Linked DNA regions of Homo sapiens. The protein of the gene in region 4 interacts with the protein of the main gene of each other region in a biochemical or structural test. Each region holds a gene or a part of one and is shown on either strand. Other genes may lie near its edges. The genes, in order: FLT1, PRELP, FN1 and HSPG2.

Region 1 (7,025 bases), on a different chromosome or scaffold from region 4:
CCATCCCTGGGGCTGCTAGGCCTGTTTGGCTCCCACTCCGTGAGTGAGGCCAAGGTCTTGCATTCAGTTCCTGGGTGGTCTGTTTGTTTTGCCTGGATTCATACCTAGAAACTGAATTTCTAACTTCAGTTCCCAGCTAGAGCCCTTGAAAAGTCATGTCAGTGGTCAGGACAGGAAATAGGTAGGGATGGGTCAAGGGCCACGTGCCCCACTGCAAGAAAACACTCCCAGCATATCTGGGCCTGATGGGCTGAGGGGAGCATCTCTAAAGGAAAGAAGAACCTTGGCATCTTCCAAGACTGGGACTCTAAGAATCCATAAAACATCCCCTCTCAGGAATGCCCTGGTGAAAAGCGAGCTGTCAGATGGGGAGCAGAGGGCACCAAGGGCTCACATTTCAGGAGTAGAGTACTCAGGAGCTCTCATCCTCATGCCTTCCCTCAGGCGACTGCAAAAGTCCTCATCCATTTGTACTCCTGGGTATGGAGACCCACCTGCGGGAGACAATGTGGAAAACACAGGGCCTGTTATGGCTTAAGGGTACAAAAGACCAAGAGGGGACAATTCAGTGTTTCTTTCCTCCCTTTAAAGCTACGTTTTAGTAATAAATTCCCAGGGATTACAACAGATCTCAACATACCGTACAACACACAGAGAAGCTCAGCAAATCCTTGCTAAGGACACCCGCTTGGTTGGGTGGTCACATGGTGCGGGGCACCTGGTGCTCACAGGCTATTCCTATGGCTACTTCTGCCTGTGTGGTCAGAGGAAGGGGTGTCGTCTGAAGGGTCCTTGCCTTCTCCCCACAAGTAACTAAAGAAGTCCCATCATTAGAGACTCATCCTTTGGGTTAGTGAGCTTTTGTTTTTTTTGAAGAGACGGGTCTCCCTCTGTCACCAGGCTGGAGTGTGGTGGCATGATCTTAGCTCACTGCAGCCTCGAACTCCTGGGCTCAAGCAATCCTCCCACCTCAGCCTCCCGAGCAGCTGGGACTCCAGGTGCTCACCATCACCACACTTGGCTTGGGCTTCTTTTTAAAAAGCCAATAGACTTGGGATAGGCTACATAGGAATCATTCACACTTGAGTGGGAATGACTTTAATTCACTTTCTTGCAACCTTCCTATAGTACCAGGGCTCTAGGAGTTGTGACAGGCCTGAGGGAAGGGGGGCTTTGCGCTCCAGGGCTGGGCTGAATGGAGTGGAATGGGGTGGGGGCTGCCCGTGGCCAGGAGTCTGCAGACCTAAGGGCGCCAGAGAGGCCTAGGCTTTGCCTTCTGCCAGCTTTACTGCCCAGGATTCCCCTGCAACCTTTCCTTTTGGGGGGATTCTTGCCAGGGCTGGGGGTGGCAAGGCCTTCTAATGCACTCTTGCTCTAGCCCTGCAGCCTCATCTACCTCAGCATTTGTTTGTGTGCATTTTCTAGTGATTACTGCTGGTAGGAAGCAGCTGGGAGGCGTGCAGTGCTGGCACCGTGTCATCGCAGGACCACTGCAGCCGCCAAGCTGCTTTCAAAGACTGGAAGCAACAGGTGCCTGTCATCGAAAGCAGGGGAATGATTTTCACACATTACAGGAAACCAGGGATGTTACTGGGTGACTTTTATTTGCTGTGAAAGGCAAATTTTTGGCAAAGCCCAAAAGACTCTTGGCGAGAACTTGAGTTTTAGAGGCCTCAGATCATCACTGTGTGTCTGCAAGCAGATGTGGGCTCTGCACGCATCTGTGTGCTTTGAACAGGACTTCCAGCCACCCATAGTGGATGTTATTGCAAGCAGAATAAATACAACCAGTGTTGTTTATTGCTTATCCTGTATAAACCAGTGTCCAGAGCCATATCATGTGTTCATATCAGAGGCACTGGAAAGGTCTCCTGTTTCTAACAACACCTTCCTCGCTGGGGCAGCTGAGCTTGTTATGGCCTTTCCTAGGAAGAAATTCTGAGGTGGTGGGAGACGCGGGGAGGGAAGCGGTAAGGGCATTAGAGGTGTGGGTGTTGAGGAATTGGAAAAGGACAGAATTGGGCAAAGTACAGAAAAAGTACTTTGCTTCAGACTTTATACCCTTGTTCATGATCGTATAAAGCCCTTTTACATGACCTTGTTCTGACCTTGTTCATGATCATATAAAGCCCTTTTACAGTAGAGGGCAGACATGCGTACGCCATTACTCATCTGAGAGTCTACATGGGCCCATTACACTTTAAGAGTTTTTTGTTACAGTAGGTTCTAATCTAAAGGCTGTCTAACCAAAGGACATTCAGCAGAAGATGCAGACATTTATTTCTGGGCTGTTTGATTTCTTCCTTCTCCCAAATTTACCTAAGGAGAAGATTTCCCACAGCAATACTCCGTAAGACCACACGTCGCTCTTGGTGCTGTAGATTTTGTCAAAGATAGATTCAGGAGCCATCCATTTCAGAGGAAGTCGAGTCTAGAAGAGGGCAAGGGGGCCTTGAGCAGAAGGGCATGAAAACAAAGCACATTCAACCCGAGTGTCCATGGGGTCACCTCCCAGATAACATACGGCCTATAAATCATTTCCGAGAGCAGCTCTGGTTTCCTAACATAGAGAACACCATAGTATGCAGTGTTACGCTAAAAGAGGGAGCTAGAGTGCTATACTGAGTCCCATGAAGGCAGTATATGTTCAGTAAGCCCCTCTGATGTGTTCAGCATGTCCTTATCTGCATAGCTCTGTGAGAAATCCTCCCCCACAAAGAAAGCCTGCACTCCACAGGGACACACTCAGGGCTTGGAAAAGGAAAAGAGTGATCTGAATTTGAAGATATCCTGAAAACTGGTGGTGGTTTCCAAAAATTTTTCCAAAGGAGGATTTTGAAAGCATTCCTATGCAAAAAGACAAGATTTCCAAAGTCACTGAATAGGGAGAGTGTGCAAAAGCATCAGAAAGAAGAGAAGAAGGAAAGAAGTCAGTGTTGAAAGAGAATATACAGTTAGTTTTCAAACATGTAGACAAATCTTCCTCTCTTTCAGATAGCAGGAATCCCAGTGAGTTAGGCCTCACCACTTTAGATGATGGGGATTGATGGGAGGTATGGGATAAAGGAGAGACAAGGAGAAAGGAAGTGGGAGGGGCAGGGAGGCTGACTCAGATACAGACGAACAGAAAGGAGGGGAGGACTAACATGAAGGTTGGTGCCATCTCTCCAGACCAGGGCCCCAAGGAAAGTCTGTTTTCCTTTATTTTTATTTTTTTATTTTTACAAAGGATCAATGTGAAGTCATATGTTTTCCTTCTATACAACAGATTCTGGTGCAGTGGCTCTCGAAGTATGGTCCTGGGACATGCTGTGTCAGCACCTTCTAGAACAAACATGTCCAATTCCTGGCCCGCGGGCCACATGTGGCCCAGGACAGCTTTGAATGCAGCCCGACACAAATTCGTAAACTTTCTTAAAACATGATGAGATTTGTTTGCATTTTTTTTTTTTTTTAGCTCATCAGCTATTGTTAGTGTTAGTGTATTTTATGTGTGGCCCAAGATAATTCTTCTTCTTCCAATGTGGCCCAGGAAAGCCAAAAGATTGGACACCCCTGGTCTAGAAACTGGTTAGAAATGCAAATTCTCAGGCTCCACCCAAGAGTTACTGACTCAGAAACTCTGGGGGGTGGAAGGCTTGTTAGGCCAGCACACTGTAGCGTAACAAGCCTTCTAGGTGATATGTATGTTCAATTAAGCTGGGAACCACTACTGTAACTCATTGGCGCCCAGACATAAGCTTAACCCTCAGGGTATATAGGCTGAGGGTTAAGGAGAAGGGAGGACATGGGAGGTCATCCACAAAAGTGAAAAATAACACTATGTCTAAAAACAAGCAGGGAAGAGAAGCCAGTACGAGCCAGCGGGGAGATGCTAGGCATGGAAGGCCATGGGAGGTAAACAGTCTCCTCCATAGTCAGCTACTGCTGACGGTCTTCCCCGCCCTTTCCTGAGACAGATACACCTGCTGAATCAATCATCTGGGTTTATTTGAGGGAAAGAGTCCAGGCTGTTCTTTTCAGTGGTACAAGGAATTCCCTCAGGATTCAAAGGAAGGTAATGCTAAGGTCTCACCCAGGCCCCACCAAACACTTCTCAGGTTAGCAAGTCTCACGCAGCGCTGCCCAAAGGACAGGTGGGAGGCCAGGCATTAGGGAAGAGCAGAAGCAGGAGACAGTGGCCTTTCTGAGCCTTACACAAGGGCTCTCTGGGATGCCGCTCATCTGGACTGTTTGTCTTCACAGAAAGCCAATGATGGTTTTCAGGGACTACAGCTGAGGAAGTGTAAATATTTACCAAGTCTGTGGTTTAAAAGTGATAGGACACACATGAGTCAAATAAACATCAAACTGACTTACATCTCCTTTTCTCACATAATCGGGGTTCTTATAAATATCCCGGGCAAGGCCAAAATCACAAATCTTCACCACGTTGTTCTCAGATAAAAGAATGTTTCTCGCTGCCAGGTCCCGATGAATGCACTATAATAAAACAGTTGCATAATCAATGCATTTCCTTAACCTAACCAACTAATTTCCTACACCTGTCAGTGTCATTATCTTAATTTGGGAATCCATTTCACATGCTGTGAAGGGAGCACCTCTCGGTGCACACAGAGTTACCATAAACATGAAGAGCCTCTCTACAAATACAGGTCCCCAAGCCCTCAAAGTCAAGAAATGGTCTGAATCCACTGGGCTACTATTTGATCAGCGAAGCTGGTTATCTAAGATTTACCAGTGGGCAAACTTTCCCCACAGTCTTTTATCCTGAGCTGCCAAGATGAGATCTTTCTCCAGCTGCAGTTTTGTGGGAGGGCCCTATATGGCTATATTAATAGTAGCTCTCCTATGAAGTCATGTCTTCTGAGATTTGGGCCAGATTTGAAAATATGCCAGAGGATACTGTGGAGAGCCGATGCCAGGTTTGTCTAGTCTGAAACCTGTGAGTTTTCCCCAGAATTAAGTTCTATCCACTGGTATCCATGACTCCTCATTCTCAAAACTCCTCATATCAAGGCAAATTAAGGCACTTGCAGTGGTGTTTGTTCTACATTTAAGAACATAGGTATCAGCAAATACTAGGAAAAATGAATTTATAGCAAAGGTGTGTGTCCAGCCCTGGCAGAGAAGAAAAACAGTAAACAGCAAGACTGACCTTTCTGGAAGACAGGAACTCCATGCCTCTGGCCACTTGAAAACTGTAAGAAATCAGATCTTCCATAGTGATGGGCTCCTTGTAGAAACCGTCAGAATCTGGAAAGCATTAGAACCGTAACTGTTTGTAATGGCTCTTGTTATCCCACCAAATCCCAGTTTATTGGAACAATGTTAGCAAAACATAAAACAAACCAACAAGTAGATCAGAGTTCATTTTTAAGAGTATTTGAGTTTCAACATGAACACCAGAGATTTTTCCAGGCCTCCAGCCCACTTTATCCAAGCATGGGGGCAGGGGGATGATCCATTAAGATGAAAATCCCTGAGGGGAGAAAACGGTACAGTTCCCTGTCAAAATTAGTAACTCTGTAAATTATCTTAATTCAAATCTTATCTCCTCAGGACATTACCATTCGAGTCTCCCACGGATGTTTATTAGAGTGATAAATAAGAAAAAAATTTCAGAGATGCATAGTATGTTGTAAAAATATCTCAGCGCGTAGGACAGGAAGGAATTAATACCTACCCTCCTCTTCCTCAACATCACTCAGACTTTTATCTTCCTGAAAGCCGGAGCTCGCAAAGCTTTCGCTGCTGGTGACGCTATCTAGTCTTGGTTTCTTGCCTTGTTCCAGGCCTGGCTCCATTTTTTCTTTCTTAGGCTCCATGTGTAGTGCTGCATCCTTTGAAGAGACCGAAAAGGACCCAGGTGAAAAGGAGCTCCAGCACAGCAGTGGGAAACCAGTCCCTCAACTGGCAATCGCCTGATGAGAAATGAGAGCGTTTCACTTCTCAAAATGGATCGTGAACTAGCACAGGGGCCCTACGGTGTCCAGGAGCCTGACTACCTCTGGAGTTGCAGAGTCTATTGTGCTCTTGCCTGGGCTTCTAGACAGCATCTTAGATCAGATAAAAAAAAAAAATTAAGAGTGGTGGGTATTTACTGAATGCTTACTCTGTGTGAGCTGGTATATTAAAAGCTTTAGGTACATTTCTTGTTTAGTGTTTCCAACAATTTTACGAAGTAGTTCTTATTTATACATGGAGAAACAGGTTCAGAGAAGTAAAGTAATCAAATTCACATGCAGCTAATAAATAGCAAAGCTGGCCGGGCACAGTGGCTCACGCCTGTAATCCCAGCACTTTGGGAGGCCGAGCCAGGTGAATCACGTGAGGTCGGGAGTTTGAGATCAGCCTGACCAATATGGAGAAACCCCGTCTCTACTGAAAATACAAAATTAGCCGGGCATGGTGGTGCATGCCTGTAATCCCAGCTACTCAGGAGGCTGAGGCAGGAGAATTGCTTGAACCCAGGAGGTGGAGGTTGCAGTGAGCCGAGATCACGCCATTGCACTCTAGCCTGGCCAACGAGAGCAAAACTCCATCTCAAAAAAAAAAAAAAAAGCAAAGCTTGAACCCAGGATTGGTCGATGCCCACATCTGTGCCCTTAACCACTTTTCCATGCCACACGCCATCTTGTGAAGGATGACATCACTGAGAGGAAAGGATCCTCAGTGTGCTTGGTGCTTCACTCTGTAATCCCTAGGAGGAGTTATAAGAGAAGGCTATAGTTACCAATTTCTCAGGTTTCTTTGGGGAAGGAGGGAACATGGACATTGCTTTTTTTCTCTTCCATTTAAACAAAGATACAGTTTGATCCTAACAAGGGTAGCAATGGCCTTTCACCCTGGACTGCACATCCAAGCCCTGGTTCATTTGGCTCTTCCATTAATCATGCGATCTTGGGCAAGTCACCTTACTTTTCTGAGTTTAATTATCCTCTTCTGAAAAGCTCTATTATACTATTATTTTATGATTCATAGGAAAGGAGTTGTCAGTTCTGGGTGTTCATGGGAAACCAGAA
Region 2 (7,349 bases), about 180 Mb from region 4:
ACTAAATAAATATTGGGGGGTGGGGGCAGAGAAAGAATCACCAAAAGGACCAATATGATCATCTTCAAAAGATACCTGTACCACTAAGTGAAAATAAAAGTGCATAGCTGCTTATTTGTTACTAGTGTGTACCTTAAATAAATCTGTGAGGACACAAGAAACTGGCGCACGGTCCTCTGGGGGAAAGTGAGTGATGAGGGGATAGGCAAGGGAAAAGACTTTTTCCCTATGCAAGCTCTTATACCTCTTAGATTTTCAATCAAGAGAATGTATTACCTATTCAAAAAATAATAACCTTTTTTTAAAAAAAGAGGGTGACAGAGAATCTCCTTGTTCAACCCTCTTAAATTCAATGAAACAGACCCCTACTGAGCACCCAGGGTGTGCCAAGCCGTTGGTGGGTGCTGTGGGTTATACCATGATGAACAGGATGCTGTCTCTGCCCAGCAGGGGCCCACTCACCCCAGGCAACCCAGGCCCCCCAGGCTGGAGGGTGGGACAGGCTGCCACAGGACTCACACAGCTTCTCCCCCGTTATGCATTTGCCCAGACCCCACCCACCCTGGACTGGGAGCCTCAACTAGTACAGGGTGAGGGTCCGTCCAGGGCCAGCCTCTGTGGGTCCTGATGACCACTGAGCAGTTTGAGCCAAACTCTTCGGGCCCACACTGCTCCTTCCCGGCAAAGTCTCAGGACCACCACGGGGGAGGTGGGAAGCTTGAGTACCTCCCTCCTGTACTTCTATGGAAAGAGTATTACACAATTGTGTCCTTTCTTCTCTTGCTTTAAGCACTCACTGCTTGTAACCAAGGCAGCAATTACTGTGAGGGTCAAAGAAATGGTAAGCCCCCCAGATGGATTTCGGTCTGGATGGGAAGTGTGGGCAGGTCCCAACTCTGCAAATGCAGCTGAAACCCACCAACTTGGAGAGCCCCCTCCCTCTGCTGCCTGGCCCTCCCTGCATTCTGTCTCCTAACCATGCTGCCCCTAGCCCTCTCCTAGGACCAGGCAGCAGTAGCAGCAACAATGTGCATATCTGGACTTCTCACCATATGCCCCAGCATTCACATCATGTGCCTGTGACTGTTCTCTGGCTACACCAGCAAGAGATAAATACCTCCCCTGGGTTGAAGACACACCACTGGTGTCCCTGAGACTCTAGGAGAGTAGAGGAGGCTCTTCCTGGAGGATCCACATAGTCCCAGGGTGCATGAAGCCAGTGAATCACAAAATACTCCCCTGCCATTGCTGCCAATGATCCTTGTGTTATCTTGGGTATACCCTGGGAGGGAGATGGGGCAGATGAGAAAACCAAGGCTCGTGTGCTGAGACCTACTCACCAGGTAGCTAGAGAACAGCAGAGTTGACATCTTAATCCAGGTTTCCTAACCCCAAACCTTATACTCTCTCTTCACAGTATTGTTGGAAGAGCACTGAGAGGTCATTTGGTACAACCTCGTGTTTTATAAATGGCAAACTGAGGTCAGAGAGGGAGAGAGACATCTTCAAGGTCACACAGCATGCAATGGGGCAAAGCCAGGTCCCAAGAACCTGGACCCCTGTCTACCAGGATGGCGACTGTGTTGAACTGGGAAGTGCTTGTCCTGACTAAAGGTGTTCAAATCCTTTTTTTTTTTTTTAACCAATGCTTCAAAATATACCAGTAGGGTTTGTGGGAGTGGGGAACACAGAAGAAACAAGATTGGCCATGAGTCGGTAATTGTTGAAGCTAGGTATTAGATAATGGGGATATTAATACTATACTGTGTAAATATGTATACGTTTTAAAATTTCCACAAAACTTTTAAAAAATTAACGTGCTGTCAAAAAAAATTAGGTACTCAAGCCATATTAGGTCCACAAGCCACTGATTAGCAAACTCTATTCTGGACACTCCTGAATATCCTGCTGGCCATGTCTATACTTCTTTCCAATTCTCTCTGCATAGCGTGGGATGCGGGAGATAGGAGAGGGAGGAAGGGAGATAACTGGCTTAGGCAGGGCTTGGAAGTTGGCCATCCATTCCCGAGAGCATAGACTCTTGGGATTTGGATGGCTGTCATACAAATGGATACAGGTGACACCCCTGCCCCTGCCCATACTCCACACTCCTTCCAGTCTGTCTATCCCCACAGACACTCTACCCATCATCCCTGTACCTCACTGTACTTTGCTCACCTTATTATTTTTTGAGACAGGGTCTTGCTCTGTGACCCAGGCTGGAGGGCACTGGCGTAATCATAGCTCATTACAGCCTTGGTCTCCTGGCCTCAAATAATCCTCTCACCTCAGTCTCCTAAGTAGCTGGGACTTCAGGTACACACCACCACACCCAGCTAATTTTTAAATTATTTGTACAAACAGGGTCCCCCCATATGGCCCAGGCTGGTCTCGAACTCCTGGGCTCCATTAATCTTCTGCCTTCGTCTCCCATAGTGCTGGGATTACAGACATGAGTCTCCGTGCCCAGCCAGTCTTTTTTGCCCTCTATCATCTACCACCCACCATACCAAGGGAAACAAGCAAATCTGGCGTCTGATGTTCCCGGCCTGCAGAAGACGCCATATCCCATCTGGATGAGAAATGAAGCACATGAGCAGCCTGGCAGAGCCACAGTTAATGTGAACCTGGAGAGGAACCGTGCTGTCTTCCAGCAAGACCTCACCAGCAGGGCGTGAAGCCATGAGATCTGGGGTGGAAGGGGGTTGGAGAAAGGTCTGGGTTTTATTTTTCCTTCTCCTTTTCTTAGGCTAATTACCATTCATCGCAATCCCTTTCCTAAACCCTAATATCTTCCCAGTTTATAAAGTGCTCTCACATTTACAATATTTAATCTTCCCAACCCTGTGAGGTCAATATTATCCATATTTTGTAAATGAGGAAACTGAAGGTCCTCATGATCAAGTGATTCACCTAAGACCATAGCTTGTGGGTGGCTGAGCCCAGGGCTGCAGACCCTAATTTTAATGTTCTCTCCTCTACCCCATATTGCGGAGGGCAGGCAGGCAGTCCCCTGTCATGGGGCTCTGCAGCTCTCCATGGAACCAATAATGGAGAAGAAAATTGCGTTGCATTTTCTAAGTAGTCAGCTGGGATGGCAGGAATTTATTTATTTTATTTACTTATTTATTTTTTGAGACAGAGTCACGCTCTTGTTGCCCAGGCTGGAGTGCAGTGGCACGATCTTGGCTCACTGCAAGCTTTGCCTCCCAGGTTCAAGCAATTCTCCTGCCTCAGCCTCCCTAGTAGCTGGGACTACAGATGCCCGCCACCACACCCAGCTAATTTTTTTGTATTTTTAGTACAGACAGGGTTTCACCATGTTGGCCAGGTTGGCCTCAAACTCCTGACCTCAGGTGATCCGCCTGCCTCTGCCTCCCACAGTACTGGGATTACAGGCGTGAGCCACTGTGCCTGGCCATGGCAGGAAATTTTGATGGGCATCTACTTACCTGCAAGTGTGTTGTGCTTTCTTAATTGAGGGGCATTGTTAGAGGATTGTTAGAGGTAGTGGTGTTACTTGACTGGGTCTTCTGGGGTGTTGATGTGCACAGGGGAAATTTGGATTTCCCATCACTTTGTGTGATGACCACACAGCCCCTAAATCTCACCTAAGTGTGATATGGAGAAGCTGAAAGAAGCCACTACATTGTCCACATGAGCTAGGAACAGTGACTTTAGGTCTTACATTAAATCTTAATTCTGCCTTAACTTTGCTGTGCAACTCAGGCCAGACTTCTCCCTCTCTGGTTCTCAGAACAGCCCTGGCAGCCAAACCGAAGTTATCTCCTATGCCAGCCTGAGACTCCACTCCCTTTGCAACCTCCTGGAGAAGATAACTTAGGGAAAGACTGTCACTGCTCAGAGGAAGCATCCCAAACCCCTCACTGGTTTAGGAATTTAACACTACCGAGCAACGGCCCCAGAAGGCAAGGCGATTGTTAGGAGGAATTAAACAGGCTAGTGCTGGACCCAGCCATCCAGTCCTGGCTTACACAGAGGTTGCTTTTCATGCCTTTTCACTCTGTTAATTTGGCTTGTTTTCCAAACATGGGTCAAACAACCCCTCTCCAGAAGCGGCAGCAGCAGAAGGAAATGTTATTAAAAATGAGTCTGTTAGTGGGAATGGTGTGTGGATGAAGTCTTTGGGAGTTTTGGCTGCCAAATAAAGACTTTATTGTCATTCCTCCTTTCCCAAGCTCCCTCCCTCTCTCCTCCCCTCCCCTCCCTCCCTCCTCCCTCCTCTCCTCCCCTCCCTCCCTATGATCTGCCCCTCCCTCCCCCCAAGCTAACCTCCCCACCCCAATAGGATCTGGTGGAAGAAAAGTCAGGCAAACACAAGCACGCACACACCACTGGGAGATCAGATCTTCTAGCTGGCTCTCTGCTGCCACAGCTCCGCCGAAGGGAGGGGGTGGAAGAGGAGGACTAAACTCAGAGCTGAGAGGAGAGGCAGGTGTGTGCAGGTAAGCCCAGTTGGGAGATGGGCAGGAGACTGGGAAGAATCTTTCATCCAGTAAGTTTCCTCCAGCTCTGTCCATTTATTGATCTAGTCTCTATCCTCTCACTCCTTCCTTCCTCCCACCTCTTTCTCCTCTCAAATGAGTTCAAATTTAGTCTTCCTAACTTCTTTCCTATAGCCTCTTCCTTTTCTTTTCATCACTCTGTACCCCTATATTTGCTTACTGCAAAAGTTAAGCTTTCCTGCTGCAGATGTTTGTTGTAGCACAGAGAGCCACGCTGCACAAAGTGTTTCTACAGATCAGGTGTTTCCATAGAAACTGGACTCCAGAACCCATTTCTTTGCACCTTTTGTGTATTGTCACACATTGTGGAAGTCACACACATCACACGGAGGCTGCACGTTCACTACCATCACCCCACACGACCATACAAAATGAAGACATCCTGTCCATTCACCTCTGCCCTCTGCATCTGACATGCAGAGCTAGACCACATCATCACCAGACACCAGCAGACACACACACACATGCATGCACACATGTTCCCTGCATCTTGTCTCTCGCCCTCTCACACACACCTCCCTAGCTGTAAGAGCAAAGATAAAGTACGTTTTCCCACTGAGATGGCAGAGCCAGAAGAAAATCTTGCATCCCAAGTCCAGGCCGAATAGGGAGGAGATAAGCAAGAGCGGGAGCTGGAAGGGTTTCTTCATTATTTAGGGCTTCACTGGGTAGGAGGGAGAGAAAAACGGCTTTTTCCAACCTGCACAGTGTCTTCTCAGCAGCTTTCAATTTCTGTCTCACTGGTCCAAACCACTTGGCTTTTGGAAAGAAAGAAGAAAGCGACCCAGTTCCCAATCCTTGAAGGTCCTAATTCCCAGCTCTGGGGACAGTTCATTTTTTTATTTTTTTTTCCTGCAGGCAGCCAGAAAAATATTTTTCTTTAAAGCCGTTCTGAAATTATTCCAACCATTTAGGTTGGCAAAAGGTCCTGTGGCAGAGGAGAAAAAAAAAAAAAGGCAGCAGTTCCTTAAGCAGTTGGGGAGGGGAAAACTGAAGGGCGGCCCCTCTCCTGCTCCCCTGCTCATTCCTCTCTATTAATAGAGAGGGTCTGTCCCAAGGCAGGCGGGGTGTAGGGAGATCAGGGGTCCCACACACAGCTGATCTTCACAGTCACCTAAGGGCTGGAGAGGGAGGAGTGTGGAGGGCTTACTAAAAATACAGATGTCGGCTCTCACTGCAGATCTACTGAATCGAGACCCAGGAATCTTGTTTTAATACTTCAGGAGATTCTGATGGTCCACCAGGGCTCGAGAATCAGGGGCCTGAGAGAGAGCTTTGCTGTAATTTTTAAGCCCAAGACTCCGGCAGTGTTAGCTGGGCAGAAGGACTGTGTCCTGGAAAAGGAGCACCAGAGTGTCCCAAATAGGCCACCTCTTTTTTGGGGAGTGGGAGTAAACAGGGAAGAGCTGTCTCCCTCTCTCCTCCTTGCAAGCACAAGCAGCCATATATACCACAGAGGAACATTCCAGTAAGAAAGTTCCCCCAAGATGGCTCCACAGAGCTTCTGTTTCCCCTCACCTGTTAATCTGCCTGCCCCAGGACCCCAGGAGCATGTGCTGGGCCCTTCCCCTGACCCTTATAGGTCCCTGCTCCTCCTTCCCAGCAGCCACCTGTCTGGGCTCTCACAGAGGGTGAGCTGAACACTTTCTTCATGCCCCCTCCACCTCCCTAGTGGGCAATCCCATTTATTGGGCATGTGAGTGAAGCATTTCAAGGCTGGAAGGGGCAAAAAGCTGGGAGAAGTCAAGAATCGCAGTGGAACTCCATGGCCCACTGAGGAAGGCAGACTTGCACCTTCTGTGGCCAGTGTCCCCTCACCTGTTGCAGAAAGCATCGGTGAGAAGTTGGTGAATTAGAAAGACAGAACAAGCTTTCCCTAGGTGGCTGGGGACTTCCAGAGTCTCCTCAGTTAGTTGTTTCTGAGACCCAAGTGTGATCTCACAAGCCACAAAGGGGAGGAAGTTGCTCTGTGTGGAAGAGCTGGTACCCCACTCACAAGGATCCCTGCCTTCGAGCAGTGCATGGGGGCTGCCCTCTAGCCAGGCTGGAGGGAAGGAGACCCCATTACTTTGAAATAATATCAACAAGACCTTAACATTCAGAAAACACTCACTTTGCATGTATTAACTCATTTAACCCTCAAAACAGAAAAGAAGGTGTTAGTATCCCCATTTTATAGAGCAGAAAAGCAATTGCTTTGCCTAAGCCTACCTAGCTAAGCATCTGAATGAAGAACTGCAGGATTGGGTCTCAGATCTATAATCACTCAAGGCATCAGACACACTCTTCTAGGCTTTCTTCAAGGCTTGGAGATGCTGGGGGAATGGGGCAGAGGATATGGTAGGTGGCGGGCTGTCAGAGAAGAGTCGTCTCACCCTGGTTTCTTCCCCACCGCTCAGAATGGAAAACTTTCTCTTCTAAACTAGTGGCCTGAGGCCAGAAAATCTTCATTCTGTTTACACTTTGCCTTGTGGTAGACACTGGGGAGACAGATGGTCTCTCCATAATAGTGTTATTTTTATTTTTAGCACTTTTTGATCTGTAGTGCATTTTAAAGCTGCTAACTGCACTTGCTTCTGACAATTGGGTAAGGAATATAGGTATAGGGAAGATTTTTTTATTCCCATTTTACAGATAAGAAAACTGAGGCCCAGAACAGGGTTCGCATCACTAGGTAGTGGTGGAGGGGTGAGAATCTTCTCTCCTAACTAGTATGCACCACAGGCTCTCCTCCCACTGCCCCAGGCAAGCTCATCCTTGTATCGTTTCACCTTCCTAGAAAGGGGCATCTTGAAGTCATCATGCCCCCATAAGGCTCCTTTG
Region 3 (7,025 bases), on a different chromosome or scaffold from region 4:
TTTGTGATTCTATTGTGTTTTTTCTAAAACCAATTGATCCTCTTAAGACAGCTTTCCTTTCAGAATAACACAACAGGATGTGTTGATCTTTTCTTTTTTCTTTTTTTTTTTTTTTTTTTTTTTGAGACGGAGTCTCACTCTGTCACCCAGGCTGGAGTGCAGTGGCGCAATCTCGGCTCACTGCAAGCTCTGCCTCCCGGGTTCACGCCATTCTCCTGCCTCAGCCTCCCGAGTAGCTGGGACTACAGGCACCCGCCACCACGCCCGGCTAATTTTTTGTATTTTTAGTAGAGACGGGGTTTCACCGTGTTAGCCAGGATGGTCTCGATCTCCTGACCTTGTGATCCACCCGCCTTGGCCTCCCAAAGTGCTGGGATTACAGGCGTGAGCCACCGCGCCCGGCCGATCTTTTCTTTCAACTTTTAGATATCTGTTCTCTTGAAGGCCAGGGCCCACCGCAGAACAGAATCAGGGCTGAGGCTAGACCAAAGGTACACTGAATTCAGTGCCTCCCTAAGTGCTGCTGAACACTAGAACCCAAAGATGTTCACAGACAAAGAATCCCAAGGTCAAACGTACTAGGGAGACATGGCGCCCATCCCCTACACTCTACCATGGAGAGTATGATGTAAAGGAACACACAGATTCTGCAGAGCAGGTTCCATTTTGTTTAACCCATTGCTTCTCAAACTTTTTTGAACAATGGAATCTTTTCAGTATTGGCAATATTCATATATAGCTAACATTTATTGAGTGTTTATCCCCATTTAATTCCCACCTACACTTTTAATCTATTTTGGTAGACTGACATTTATAATTTTTTTTATTTTTTATTTTATTTTATTTTTTTGAGATGGGGTCTCGCTGTATCACCCAGGCTGGAGTGCAGTGGTGCGATCTCGGGTCACTGCAAACTCCACCTCCCGGGTTCATGCCATTCTCCTGCCTCAGCCTCCCGAGTAGCTGGGACTACAGGCGCCCGCCACAACGCCTGGTTAATTTTTTGTATTTTTAGTAGAGATGGGGTTTCACCGTGTTAGCCAGGATGGTCTTGATCTCCTGACCTCGTGATCCGCCTGCCTCGGCCTCCCAAAGTGCTGGGATTACAGGCGTGAGCCACCGCGCGTGGCCGATGTTTATAATTTTTTTTGGCCAGTAGCAATTTTATTAATGATAATAAAATAACTCAAAGATATTATCAAATCTAATCTTGTTCACCTTCATAAGTGCTCAAAGCAAGACAAAAACTCATCAAAAGAAGAAAAATTAGAACAATTAATATTTTTAATTGAAGGATGGCTGAGACACTACGTAATGATGTTGGCACATCATATAGTAAAAAGTTAATCAAAACATATTAAAAATAATGAGAGGAGTGCACGTCCTTGTTGGCCATATTTCTCTCTTCAGATTTTTATGAAACATTTATGACGTAAAAATCTTTTTCTCATGCCAAAAATGATTAAAACTTGTTTTTTAAAAAGAATGCTTAGATATCATGTCTTTCATGGCCATCTCTAAGTCCTCTCTGAATTTCTAAAATTTCGAATGCCAATACATGAAGGAAATAATTGTGTGTTACTTTATAGAATGTAACAAAGTTTGCCAGAGCATAGAAACCACATATAAAGGATGGTTTCCACTACAAAAAGAGTTCAATGTCGGGACAGGGAAGTATATTTCATTCAAAAACAAACAAACAAAAAATCCAAATGCACTTTTTTTGTCCTTTCCTAGCAGAAGAACCAGGTAGTCATATAATTAATTATAACTCTCATTTCCTTTCAAATGAACTTTGGATATTCAAAATACGTGTGTGTGTGCGTGTGTGCGTGATCTATCCATGGTAAGTTTTATGATGCTAGCATTCTTTAAAACTCAGTTTTATCTTTTGGAGATAAATCTGGCTTTTTTCCCCCTAAGGTTTATTTGTATGTCATTTTTCTTTTTTTCTGAAAAATTTAAAACTTGACATTAAAAAAAGTTTTAACAACCAATAATGTGTAAATTATCTTAGGTTATTAGCTGAAACACTGCAAATTATCCTCAAATGGCATGTCAAAGGAAAGATGGATTTGCGGAAATATTTCTTGACCTGCTTCCCCATTTCCCGCCCCTGCTCGTCCTGTGCCTCACCGCTCGATGTGGTCTGCACAGAGGTGTGCCTCTCACACTTCCACTCTCCTCGGCCGTTGCCTGTGCAGATGCACTGGAGCAGGTTTCCTCGATTATCCTTCTTGCTCCAGGTGTCTCCAATTCTATAGGATGTCCTTGTGTCCTGATCGTTGCATCTATCTGTGTCACAAAGGAAGCACATACATACATCAGGTCGAGAGTCGCAAGTGGTCAATTCAAACTTAAAAAAGGAATGCTATCTATGCCTGGTAATCTATTTTTGGTAATATGTTCATATTCAGCTCTGGTGCTGCAAGGTATTACACTTCTGAAAGATGAAATTACATTTGTTACAGTGGAAAGGCAGCTGAATGGTTTAGTCTAGTTTCATCTCTCTGTCAAATAACATTTTCATTTATCTATTTATTTATTGTTTTCACACTGTTCCTTTGACTAACTTCATTCTCTGGCATTATATTTCATCTTTTTCCTTCTCAGGCTCTTCCAGGATTTTTCTTAGTCATCACTGTTTATGGCCTGCCTTTCAATAGGGACCTTGCTTTAGAAAACTAAAAACAGGCTAAGCGCGGTGGCTCACGCCTGTAATCCTAGTACTTTAGGAGGGTGGATCACCTGCAGTCAGGAGTTCAAGACCAGCCTGGGCAACATGGTGAAACCCCCGTCTCTACTAAAAATACCAAAAAAAATTAGCCGGCTGTGGTGGCGGGCGCCTGTAATCCAAGCTACTCGGGAAGCTGAGGCAAGAGAATCGCTTGAACCCGGGAGGTGGAGGTTGCAATGAGCTGAGATCACACCATTGCACTCCAGCCTGGGCGACAGGGTGAGACTGTCTCAAAAACAAAACAAAACAAAACAAAACAAAAAAAACAAGCAAACAAAAAAAAGCTTATAACAATGGGGAGGCAAGCAGGTATCAAAGGGTCTTCACCAATGGCTACAAAGAAGCTATAAGAAGGTGGTAGTATCTCTTTCTTCATTTGTTATGTAAAAAATGTAGAGGATGCACAATTTCTTTGACTAAAATATTATTTTCCCTTCCCCTATACCCAAACATCTACAGTATTTAAAAATCACTAGCAAAATAGCCCCAAATTATTCAGTGTTAGCCCTCCACTGGAAGAGTGGGATCAACATAAAATGATAATTTGTAACTAAATGACCATTAGTCTATGCGTGCATTTATCTGGTAAATAGATTATTTAAATTATAATCCAAATTTGCTCTGTGCCACGATGTGAGTATAGAGGATCTGATGTCTTTGTGAATTGGATATTGTTGCAACTCCTGGGTTAGAGAAAAAAAATTAATAGTTGATGTAGGTTCAAACAAATACACACCCACATCCATCTACCACAAGAATAGAAGTTTGCATGAAGGTATAATTACTGATTAGAGCTTTTTCCCAAATCCCCAGCGAAAAGTATTATCATCCCCTGAACCTCCATAGCACTACTTTCAGTATTTCTGTTGAAATCTTTAATACTGTGTTTTGCAGATGATAAATATGTATAAGACTTTCTCATCTCCCTGACCCCCTAAGTACTCTTTGAAGGCTGGGCTAATGTTCATTTCATATCTGCACCCCTATAATACCTTGAACAAAGTAAGTCCTTATAAAATTTTCTGGAATAAATGACTTCTCTTTGAGAAACTTTTCCCAACTTGCTATTTAAAGAGTTCTAAATAACAGATAAGGTTTGAATCAGACATCTAATTTGTCTTAAGCTAAAATATTGCCACAAAGATCTTGGAAGTCTGATGATCACAGTAACATTTTAAATGCAAAATATCTAATAAACCAGCAAGTTTCTGGGAAAGCTTTGGTCAAAATGGTTACCACTTTTCATGAGAGACCTATTTTTGTTAGCAAAGAATTTGAATTTGGATGATGGCTATGTTAAAGGTAGTTAAATGGGTTCAGCTAGATAAATAAAACAGGTTCAAATTATTTGGATTTGATTTTAAACTTATTTACAACACCAGTAGTTAATGGCTGTTTTACTTCAACAAACTCTCTAGCTGTTATTAGTTTACAATATCAAAAAAGGAGCCTTCAAACCCAAAGGCAACAATTAAGACCCCAAGACAATCTTAGAAGGAGCAGTAAAGACACCAGAGGCCAGCTTCTTTACAGCACTAATCAAATGCGTTAGGTCAGAGACACTATCCCTAACTCCAGAGTAGATAAATCATTTTAATTTATGGGATAAATTCTTTTTAATTTTATCAATTTAGCCTGTGAATGTGCCCTATTTAAATTTCAAACATAGAAGGAAACCTAAACCTTTTGTTCAACTCTATGTCAGTGGCAGTGAGCTGAGATTGAACCTTATCAAAGTGATATGTTTTTCTATTTATGTAGTCTTCTCTGAAGATGCGGAATAAGTTGGTTATGAAAGTTTTCTTGACTTCCAGAAGTTACCAAAGCATGCTGATATACTGGATGTGTTCTGAGTAACATAGTATTACCCTTCTCTCTAGGAATCCAGAAAACAATACCTGGCTTAATCTTTAACATAAAGATGTAAAACATACTTCTAGAAGTGCAAGTGATGCGTCCGCTGCCTTCTCCCAGGCAAGTACAATCTACCATCATCCAGCCTTGGTAGGGCTTCTCCCACGTTTCTCCGACCACATAGGAAGTCCCAGCAGCATGATCAAAACACTTCTCAGCTGTAGGGAAATTTGGAAGAAAAACAGGAAAAAAAGGTTATTTTGAATTGTGCAAGCTCCCTGTAATTTAAAGTGTAGTGTGTAAGCAAAAATTCAGCCACATTTTTTTTAAGTGGCACTCTGTTCAGAAAGAATGACACACCCAGCATCTAAGCACACAGTAAGTAGCCAAGGCAAAAGAAAGCTCAAGCTGAGTTGGCAGGCAGAAATTCCATTCTCCTAATAAGTACATGGACTACATATTTTCAGCGAGCCCCAAACTTCCCAGCAGCATTTCCAGTAGCAAGGATCTATGTATGTATCTAGTCTGTGGGAGACTACATATGCAAAATTCCAATCTTAATTATAAATGACCAATTATGAATTTTGAGTGGCCTAAATACAATGACAAAGAAAGCTATTTTTAAATATTGGAAAGCAAAACAATACAAAACAAGACAAAAACCTCTAAATTAGAAGACAAGTAAACAGAGTAAAATTTATAGCCAGAAACTTTCAGGCTTGTACTTACAAAATTCAACTGAGGATTGAGATCCAAAGAAGCTCAACAACTTTTAATTTGAAAAGAAATGAGCAGAGTGTGACAAGCACACACTATTTCATGTTTCGGTCCAGGACATTCCATATAGAAATGTGTCCAAAGTGTCATTTTTTTTTCTTTTAAATAAATTATATCTTGACGAAGGAGGAATCTGAGATCAGCTATTAGGTAAAAGAAATGACTCCATTCTAAATCTTTCAATTCTACCTTATGCTTTTGAAGCAAAGTTAAGACTTCTATGTGTAGTCAGTACTTTTTGATCTAACTCCTGTAAGAAGACTATGGATTATATAATAATTCATTATTTCAAACAAAATTCCCATTTCTTTATTGGTTTTCACTGGAATTCAGGTCTATGACCTATGTAGATGTGATTCTGGTCCAACCCCACATTAGAACTAAGCATCCCAGCTCTTGCTCAGCCCTAAGACTCACACACCTATGGGCTTGCAGGTCCATTCTCCTTTTCCATTACCAAGACACACACACTCTAACATGTAACCACCAGTCTCATGTGGTCTCCTCCAGGTGTCACCAATCTTGTAGGACTGACCCCCTTCATGGCAGCGGTCTGTTGAAGATACAACGAAAATGTTAGGAGAGGGCAGAACAGATTTTTTTTTTTGGTCTCATATTCCACCCATGGTAGGTACTTAGGTTGGCTAAAGTAGAGACACAGACAACAGCTTTCCCATCAGAGACAGGGGAAACGTTAACAGGTCTGGTCACTTGGAGTCAATTCAGTTAAGTGTCTTGCTTAGAACACAATGGAAAACCACAGAGAAATCTGGATGGCAAGGAAGAGGTCATGAATCCTGCTTTCCCAGAGAGATCACAGGAAATTGGGTCCTAAGCAGAAAAGAAAGGCTGGGAGGCTTGGTCTTCACTCATACACAGCAGGCTAAGACTGAGACTAATTCAGTGAAAAGGCCACATCAGGCACAGCACTCCAGCTTTTGGGAGCATGGAGAGCCTGTATTTTACCCTAGGATAGAAATGTCATTTTGGTGGAAAGCAAACAGACATATGCATATAAAGTGTGGAAATCCTGGTAGTTTTCTAAGTTGTTAAGCCCAATGGCACATTCAAATGCTGAACTAGATTGTAAACACTATGGACCCTTGCCTCTTGCGATTTGCCTGTGAACTTGGATAAACCCTAACATGAAATATGGGGAAAGTTGATTGGGCCTATTCACACGGGACTTGTTCTTTTGAATAGAAGTCTTTAAGACGACTTATATTTAAAGAATGGATTAAAAAACTTAAATACTATCTTAATAGAATCTATTGGTAACCCAGTGAATCATACTGGAAAGAGTGCCTTAGCTAAACTAGAGTTGAGAATCAGCCCGGTTCCCAAAGTTCCTTAGCAAACTCTATTGGGTTAATAATTTTGTATTATCCCTAGGAATAGTGACATCTGCTTCCTGGGTATAACCTACTGGTCACCAAGAAACCAGACTGTTTCTGTGAGGTGCAAGAGGTCTCTGCATTGCAAACATGAAGACCAGACAACACATGGCTGGTTCACTCTTCATGAACACCTTCCCAGTCACTGCAGAAAAGTCTCATGATTTGTCTAGCTTGAAGATATCCAGGTGATTTAAAATGGGCAACTCCCCTAAGCATGTCTTACTGAAATGGAACCCAAGAGGTCTCTTGGTTCTACTATG
Region 4 (7,025 bases):
CCCAAAGCATAGGGTGGGGTGGGGTGAGATCCCCAGGCCTGTGTGTCTCTCTCTCCTGAGTCCTGCTGTTTCTCTGAGGCCACGGGAGCCAGATTTAGAGTCGAGCAGCCCCACATCCCACCAAGTAAGGACCAACTGCAGGTTGGCCCAGAGCTCCCCAGGCAAGGTCCTGCCTCCTCCAGTGTAGGCCAGGGGGGGACAGGGCTAGGATGGGGTCCCAGGACATCCCCCACCCCCCCCACTGTCACTACCCTCAGGATGCACGAACATCCTTTCTGCACCCATGGGAGCCCCTGGCCACACCTCCTGTTGCTCAGAGCCCACCAACTGCACACATCTGGGAAGGGGACAAGGCGTCCAAAGACTCCAGCCTTTCCCAGGCCACACCCTGGGGTGTGCCCCCCTCCTTCTCCCAGTCCAGGAAGGAGCAATCAGGGTGGAAGGATGGACTCTGTCCTACAGCTGCGGCCTCGGTAGGCGAAGGAGGGGCAGTGACAGATCAGAGGCAGTTACACCCGGAGCTCTGAGACTGCGAAAGAGGCCCAGGGAATGGACAATCCCCTTACACAGCCATTCATTCAACAAGCCCAGTACAGGACCTGGGTCATAGAGAAGGCGTGCCCGGCTGTGCCCTGGGAACCCTGCCTCAGATATTCCACCGGCCTTGTCTTTAGCAGGAACGAGACTTAGTGCAATCACGGATTGTCAAATACCTGCCACATTCCAGGCACTGAGCAAGGTGCATCCACCTGGTTACTTCATAACCACCAGGAAGCAGGCCTCCCCATTTCACATTTGACTGAGGCTCAGAGAGGTAAAGCAACTTGCCCAAGGTCACAGAGCCAGTCAGGGCTGGGCCAAGACTTGAAGGCAGGGCCTTTTGAGCCCACATCTTTCCCTTGACCACAGTGCCCAGGGAAGTGGCTCTGAGACCAATGAGGACACAGACAAGTCAAAAAGGGCAGAGTGGACATCCCAGCTTGTCCCACATCTTCTGGGGCCCTGCAGAGAGCATGGCTGGGCAGGCAGCTCCCAAGTGCAGGGGCCAGAGCACGCCCCTTTCCAATCTCAGCAAGGAGCCTGGGCCTTCTTGGCCTGCTGGCTTCCTCAAAGCCATTAATTTGCTCACTTGAATTTGTTTGTTTGTTTGTAGTTTTGAGACAGAGTCTCGCAATGACGCCCAGGCTTGAGTGCAATGGCATGATCTCAGCTCACTGCAACCTCCGCTTCCCAGGTTCAAGCGATTCTCCTACCTCAGCCTCCTGAGTAGCTGAGACTACAGTCATGCACCACCACACCCGGCTAACTTTTTTGTATTTTTAGTAGAGACGGGGTTTCACCATCTTGGCCAGGCTGGTCTCGAACTCCTGACCTCAAGTATCTGCTCACCTCAGCCTCCCAAAGTGCTGGGATTACAGGCGTGAGCCACCGCGCCCATCCTTTATTCACTTGATTTTTTTTTTTTGAGATGGAGTTTTGTTCTTGTTGCTCAGGCTGGAGTGCAATGGCGCGATCTCAGCTCACCACAACCTCCGCCTCCCGGGTTCAAGTGATTCTCCTGCCTCAGCCTCCCTGAGTAGCTGGGATTACAGGCATGTGCCACCATGCTTAGCTGATTTTTTTATTATTATTATTTTCAGTAGAGACGAGGTTTCTCCATGGTGGTCAGGCTGGTCTCGAACTCCCAACCTCAGGTGATCCGCCCGCCTTGGCCTCCCAAAGTGCTGGGATTACAGGTTGTGAGCCACTGTGCCCAGCCTCACTTGAAGTTTTAATGTGTTCACCTACTATCTGCCTAGCACCAGGCAAACAGCAATGAACAAAGCCAAGTCCCTGCCCTCATGCAGCTTCCACTCTAGATGAGGGGGTAAGAATAAATCTACAAGCCATGAGCTCCGGCTGTGGAGTTCTAAGGCAGAGTCTGCAACTCCACAAATGAACACTCAGCAAGATCCCCTCCGCCTACACCATAAGCCAATGCAGAGGCCCCAGCTTGGGTGGGGACGGGGGAGCTCCTGGCTGGAGATGGGTAGGGGGATGACTGCCAGGCATGTGAGCCAGTCCAACCCCCACCCATGCTGTCCCCTCCATCACTTGCCATTCTTTTTTCTTTTTTTTTTTTAAGAGACAGGATCGCGTTCTATCACCCAGGCTGGAGCGCAGTGGCAAGATCATGGTTCACTGCAACCTCCACCTCCTGGGCTCAAGTGATCCTCCTACCTTGGTCTCCCAAAGTGTGGGGATTACAGGTGTGAGCCACCACTCCTGGCCCACCTGCCGGTTTTTTTTTTTTTTTTTTTAGGAATTTTTATTGTCCAAACAAGAGATCGTAAGAGAAGACACAAATAAATTAACTGTTCTGAGAATTCTGGACTCCACCTCCTGCCCACTCCTCCTGGAACTTTCCCATCTCAGGTAGTGGCAGCTCCATCCTTCGGGATGCTGAAGCCAAAGACTGTGGAGGCATCCCGGACTCTTCTCTTTCTGTCCCGCCCCACATCCAACCCACTAGCAAATCCTGGTGACCCATCTTCAAAATGTACTGGGGATTCAACCATCTCCCACCTCCGTGGTCCTAGCTTGAGCTCCCATCGTCTGTCCTGGGTCACGGCCTCCTTGCCTTTGCTCTGGACCCTCCCCGTGCTCCTCTCCACACAGCAGCCAAAGCAATCCTATGGAACACCGGGCCCCTTCAGTGACTTCTCAATTCACTCAGACGCAAATCCAAGGTCCTTCCCATGGCCAAAGCTCTGCTGATCACCCTCTGCCACCCCCCTGCCTGCTGCATCCACCATGCTCCCCCTCACTGATGCTGCTCCAGCCCCACGGGCCTCCTTGCTTTTCCACAGACATGCCAAGGACACTCCCACCTCTGGGCCTCTGCACTAGCTGTGCCCTCTGCCTGGAATGCCCTTTCCATTGATATCTGCGAGGCTCACCCGCTCACTTACTTCAGGTCTCCTTCAGTTCAAATTTATCTTATCAGAGGCTTTTCCTACCACCCCACCCTACCTACCCCGCCTCATCACTCACTGCCCTCTTCCCTGTTTTATTTTTTCTTCTGAGCACTTATCACCACCTGATGTATTTCATTTATTGTCTGTCTTCCTGCACTAGCTATAACGCAAGTGACATGAGAGGAAGGAATCTGACATTTTTATTCTCTGCGGTAACCTCAAGATCTAGAACAGGGCGGGTGCAGTGGCTCACGCCTGTAATCCCAGTGCTTTGGGAGGCCAAGATGGGTGGATCACTTGAGGTCAGGAGTTCAAGACCAACCTGGCCAACATGGTGGAACTCCATCTCTACTAAAAATACAAAAATTAGCTGGACGTGGTGGCGTGTTCCTGTAATCCCAGCTACTTGGGAGGCTAAGGCAGGAGAATCTCTTGAACCTGGGGGGCAGAGATTGCAGTGCGGCGAGATCATACCACTGCACTCTAGCCTGGGTAACAGATCAAGACTCCATCTCAAAAAAAAAAAAAAGATCTAGAACACAGTCAGATACATAGAAGATGCTCCACAGATATTTGTGAAATGAATTTTAAAAAACGCTTAATCACATACATCATTTGTTCATTCATTCATTCAACACACTCTGCAAGGCTTTGCGCACCAGATACTCCCCTAAAACCCAGAGCAACAGGACACCCTCCTTCATGGCTCAGGGAATGGGCCCTGGTCAGGAGCTAGGAGCTGGTCCTAAGGCTATCTCAGGATGCCACAGATGCCTCCAGGGATGCTCTGAGGTTCCTGCAGGCCTGGCACAGATGAGCATCATGGAAGGGAAGGGAGAGTGGTTCTGGGGGCAGCAAGACTCAAAGGCCTCACATTCCCAGGCCTCAAAGAGCCACCTTGTTCTCAGGGCTTTCATGACAGCACCCCCGACCCGGCCACCCCAGCAGCCACGAGCCACACCCCTCTCAAGGCTGCTATTGACACAGCCCTGACGCCACCAGGCTGGGCAGTGAGGCCGGCGGCTCCCCGCGAAGTGAGTTCCACACATACTTCTGGGTTTCAGTCAGCCAGCTCTGGGTGCTGGGGCAGCTGGCCCCGGGAGCAGGAGGGGGTGGCAGGGCCAAAGAGGCCAAGGCCCAGGCGGAAGCAACATTCCAGCAGGGCCGGGACCCTCGGCGCAGCCTCCCTCTTCTTGGCAGGAGCAGGAGCGAGAGGAGAAAAAGGCCAGGGTAGGCCCTGGGACAGGGAGAGGTAGGCCCAGCAGATACTTGGGAAGCTGCCGGGGAACCAAGTCATATTCACTTCCTCCTCCAGTCTGACCCCTCATAGCTGGGACTGGATTGGGTGAAGGGGAGGGGGGCAACAGGCCAGGGCTGGGAACCCTTCCCATATACCCCAAGTAGTCTGAGGGTGCAGAGCCCACACCTCTGGCCTCCAAGTGGCCTCTGAATCATTGCTCCAGATCTTTCCATAGCCTGGGCAGGCCCTCCTGCCCTCCCTCCTGAGCCTCTCACCCCAAGGCCAGGCAGCCCTTGAAGCTCTGCAGACTCACCCTAAACCTTGAGCCCCCAGGGAACAGCCAGAAAAAAACAGCGCAGGCTCCACACAGGACAACCAGGAGGGTGTTCTTCCCCTTCCCCCACTAGCAGCATGGCAGGGGCAGGGGCCCCTGACCTCCCACACTGGGCAGGGCCAGCCTGGCCCACTCAGGCCTAAAAGTCCCTGGATAAATTCAACTGCCTGTAGAGTCCCAGGAAATATCTGATGAGAACATTAATGAATTAACAAACCTAAAAATGACCACCCTAGAGTTCCTAGGCTTCCCCTCCAGGCACAGGCGTCCCTAGGAGACCCCACGGACACTGAGGCATACCCAACCTAAGAGCTTCTGTCCCCGAGCCAATCCCTGATATTCCTTGCCTGAGGTAGCCCCTGTACTACTTGGGACCAGAGTTCTTAATCAACATCTGTGACAAGTTGTAGCAATATCTACTGACTGCCCACGACAAGCACATGGGGCAGTACGTGGCGTGATTAGGAGAGCTTCGTCTGGATTCAAAACTTGGCTTGCAGCATCTCTGAGTGTGTGGATATGTAAGTCACTGGGCAAGTTACGTAACCTCTCAGTGCCTCAATGTCCTCTGCTTAGAGAATGGGGATCAGGCTAGTAGCTACAGCTTAAAACATTCGACAAAGATATTCACTAAGCACTTACTACCTGCCAGGTGCTAAGCATACAGCAGTGAACAAAAACAAATGAGGTCCTGCTCTCGTAGAACTTAAACTGAGCAGGAGGAAGCAGATAAACACATAAACAAATACAGACAAATACAGGCCAGACAATTGTGAGAACAAAAATAAAGCAGTTTAAGGAGACAGCCATTATGGGAAGAGTGGTAAGGACCAGAAAGAGGGAGAGGGTCATATGGATATTACGGGGACAAATGTCCCAGGCAGAAGGAACAGCAGACGCAGAGACCCTAAGGTGGGAGTGTGTTTCACATGCTCAAGAAACAAAGCCTTGGTCAGGCGAGGTGGCCCATGCCTATAATCCTAGCACTTCAGAAGGCTGAGGTGGGAGGATAGCTTGAGTTAAAGAGTTTGGGACCAGCCTGGGCAATACAACAAGATCCCATCTCTATTTGTTTTAAATTTTTATATTCATTAGAAAAGAAAAGGCTGGGTGCAGTGGCTCACGCCTATAATCCTAGCACTTTGGGAGGCCGAAGGGGGTGGATCATTTGAGCCCAGGAGTTCGAGACCTGCCTGGGGGAACATGGCAAAACCCTGTCTCTATAAAAAATACAAAAATTAGCCAGGTGTAGAGGAGGGTGTCTGTAGTCCCAGCTACTCAGGGGGCTGAGGTGGGAGGATCACCTGAGCGTGGGAGGTTGAGGCAGCGGTGAGCTGTGATTGTGCCACTGCACTCCAGCCTGGGTGACAGTGTGAGACCCTGTCTCAAAAAAAAAAAAAAGAAAAGAAAAAGAAACAAAGACTGGTATAGCTGGAGGAGTTTGAGAGGAGCAGGTGGCAGGAGGCCGGGTGTTGCAGGGCCTCGTAGGCTATATTAAGTCAGGGGCTGGGACCTAATTCTGAGCACCGCAGGGAGGTGGTGAGCAGGAAACACAGGTGAATGGGAGGATTCACTGAGAAACTCAGAGCAGACAGTGGGTACTGGGTAAGTCTGAAGTACCCGTATTACTGTGTCATCATCCAGCCTGGCACCCCAAGAGCTCCTTCCCCTCCACTTTGCTCACCCGTCTTCCGGGCCCTGAACCCAGTCACCTCCTGCCACCTTCTTTCCACCGTCTCCCGGGCAGGGCTTCAGACCCACAGATCCTAACTTGTCTGCGCTCAGCCTGAGAGCAGGCCCGGGCCAAGCCAGGCAGGGGCCACAACTCCCCAGACAGGGGGAAATGGGCCTAAGGGATGGGGGGGTGGTCCATCTCTGCCCCTTCCAGCTTCTACCCTGCAGACAGACCTGCAGCCTGCCCTCCTTCCCTCCGGGAATGTCCAGGGCACACTCAAAACCCCATCCTGTGCCGGCTGCAGGTACGGAACAAGTAGGCTAGTGTCAGGTGACAGAGCAGCTGGCTGCGTGGAGGAGGGCTGAGGGACCGCCAGGAAGGGGAGGCTCCTGCAGTTCAGCTGGCAGCCTCCCCAGTGAGGAAATCCAGCTGAGGCAGGAAACAGGTATCTCAGCGACTTCCCTCCTAGGCCCTGGAAAACACCTTAATCACCACCGAGGCTCCCTCAAGACGCCTGTCCCCTGCAGGGCCGCCCTAAAGGGGTCAGCAGGCCAAGGCCTGCCGAGTCACCCAGGCCCAGCCCCCTCCTCCAGCAAGCCTCCTCACCTCCCAACAGCTGAAATTACACCCACACTTAATCACAGATCAGCTTCCTGTGGTCCTGTCCCCCGTCCCGGGGAAGCCTGGAGCTCCCTAAGGCCCATCTCACCCTGCTGCTGTGCCCAACCCTTCCCCATAAGCCACTGGCTCCGGACCAAACTGAAGGGCAGATGAGAGCAAGGGTAGCAGGCAAAGAGGGTCCAAGGTGTGCTGGGAGCC

The links.
Region 1: the proteins of HSPG2 (region 4) and FLT1 form a complex in vitro, tested with the Homo sapiens proteins (one study listed by IntAct).
Region 2: the proteins of HSPG2 (region 4) and PRELP form a complex in vitro, tested with the Homo sapiens proteins (one study listed by BioGRID).
Region 3: the proteins of HSPG2 (region 4) and FN1 form a complex in vitro, tested with the Homo sapiens proteins (one study listed by BioGRID).

Annotation. Positions count from the first base shown.
Region 1 is NC_000013.11:28,317,104-28,324,128, forward strand, and holds part of FLT1 (vascular endothelial growth factor receptor 1 isoform 1 precursor), read right to left. Parts: intron 5,844-7,025; coding exon 5,687-5,843; intron 5,257-5,686; coding exon 5,159-5,256; intron 4,483-5,158; coding exon 4,360-4,482; intron 2,432-4,359; coding exon 2,320-2,431; intron 1,816-2,319; exon of another isoform or gene 1,426-1,815; intron 495-1,425; coding exon 395-494; intron 1-394. UniProt on the Homo sapiens protein: Tyrosine-protein kinase that acts as a cell-surface receptor for VEGFA, VEGFB and PGF, and plays an essential role in the development of embryonic vasculature, the regulation of angiogenesis, cell survival, cell migration, macrophage function, chemotaxis, and cancer cell invasion.
Region 2 is NC_000001.11:203,471,473-203,478,821, forward strand, and holds the start of PRELP (prolargin precursor), read left to right. Parts: upstream 1-4,333; 5' UTR 4,334-4,466; intron 4,467-7,349. UniProt on the Homo sapiens protein: May anchor basement membranes to the underlying connective tissue.
Region 3 is NC_000002.12:215,426,044-215,433,068, forward strand, and holds part of FN1 (fibronectin isoform 1 precursor), read right to left. Parts: intron 5,922-7,025; coding exon 5,790-5,921; intron 4,810-5,789; coding exon 4,672-4,809; intron 2,296-4,671; coding exon 2,137-2,295; intron 1-2,136. UniProt on the Homo sapiens protein: Fibronectins bind cell surfaces and various compounds including collagen, fibrin, heparin, DNA, and actin. Fibronectins are involved in cell adhesion, cell motility, opsonization, wound healing, and maintenance of cell shape.
Region 4 is NC_000001.11:21,927,302-21,934,326, forward strand, and holds part of HSPG2 (basement membrane-specific heparan sulfate proteoglycan core protein isoform b precursor), read right to left. Parts: intron 1-7,025. UniProt on the Homo sapiens protein: Integral component of basement membranes. Component of the glomerular basement membrane (GBM), responsible for the fixed negative electrostatic membrane charge, and which provides a barrier which is both size- and charge-selective.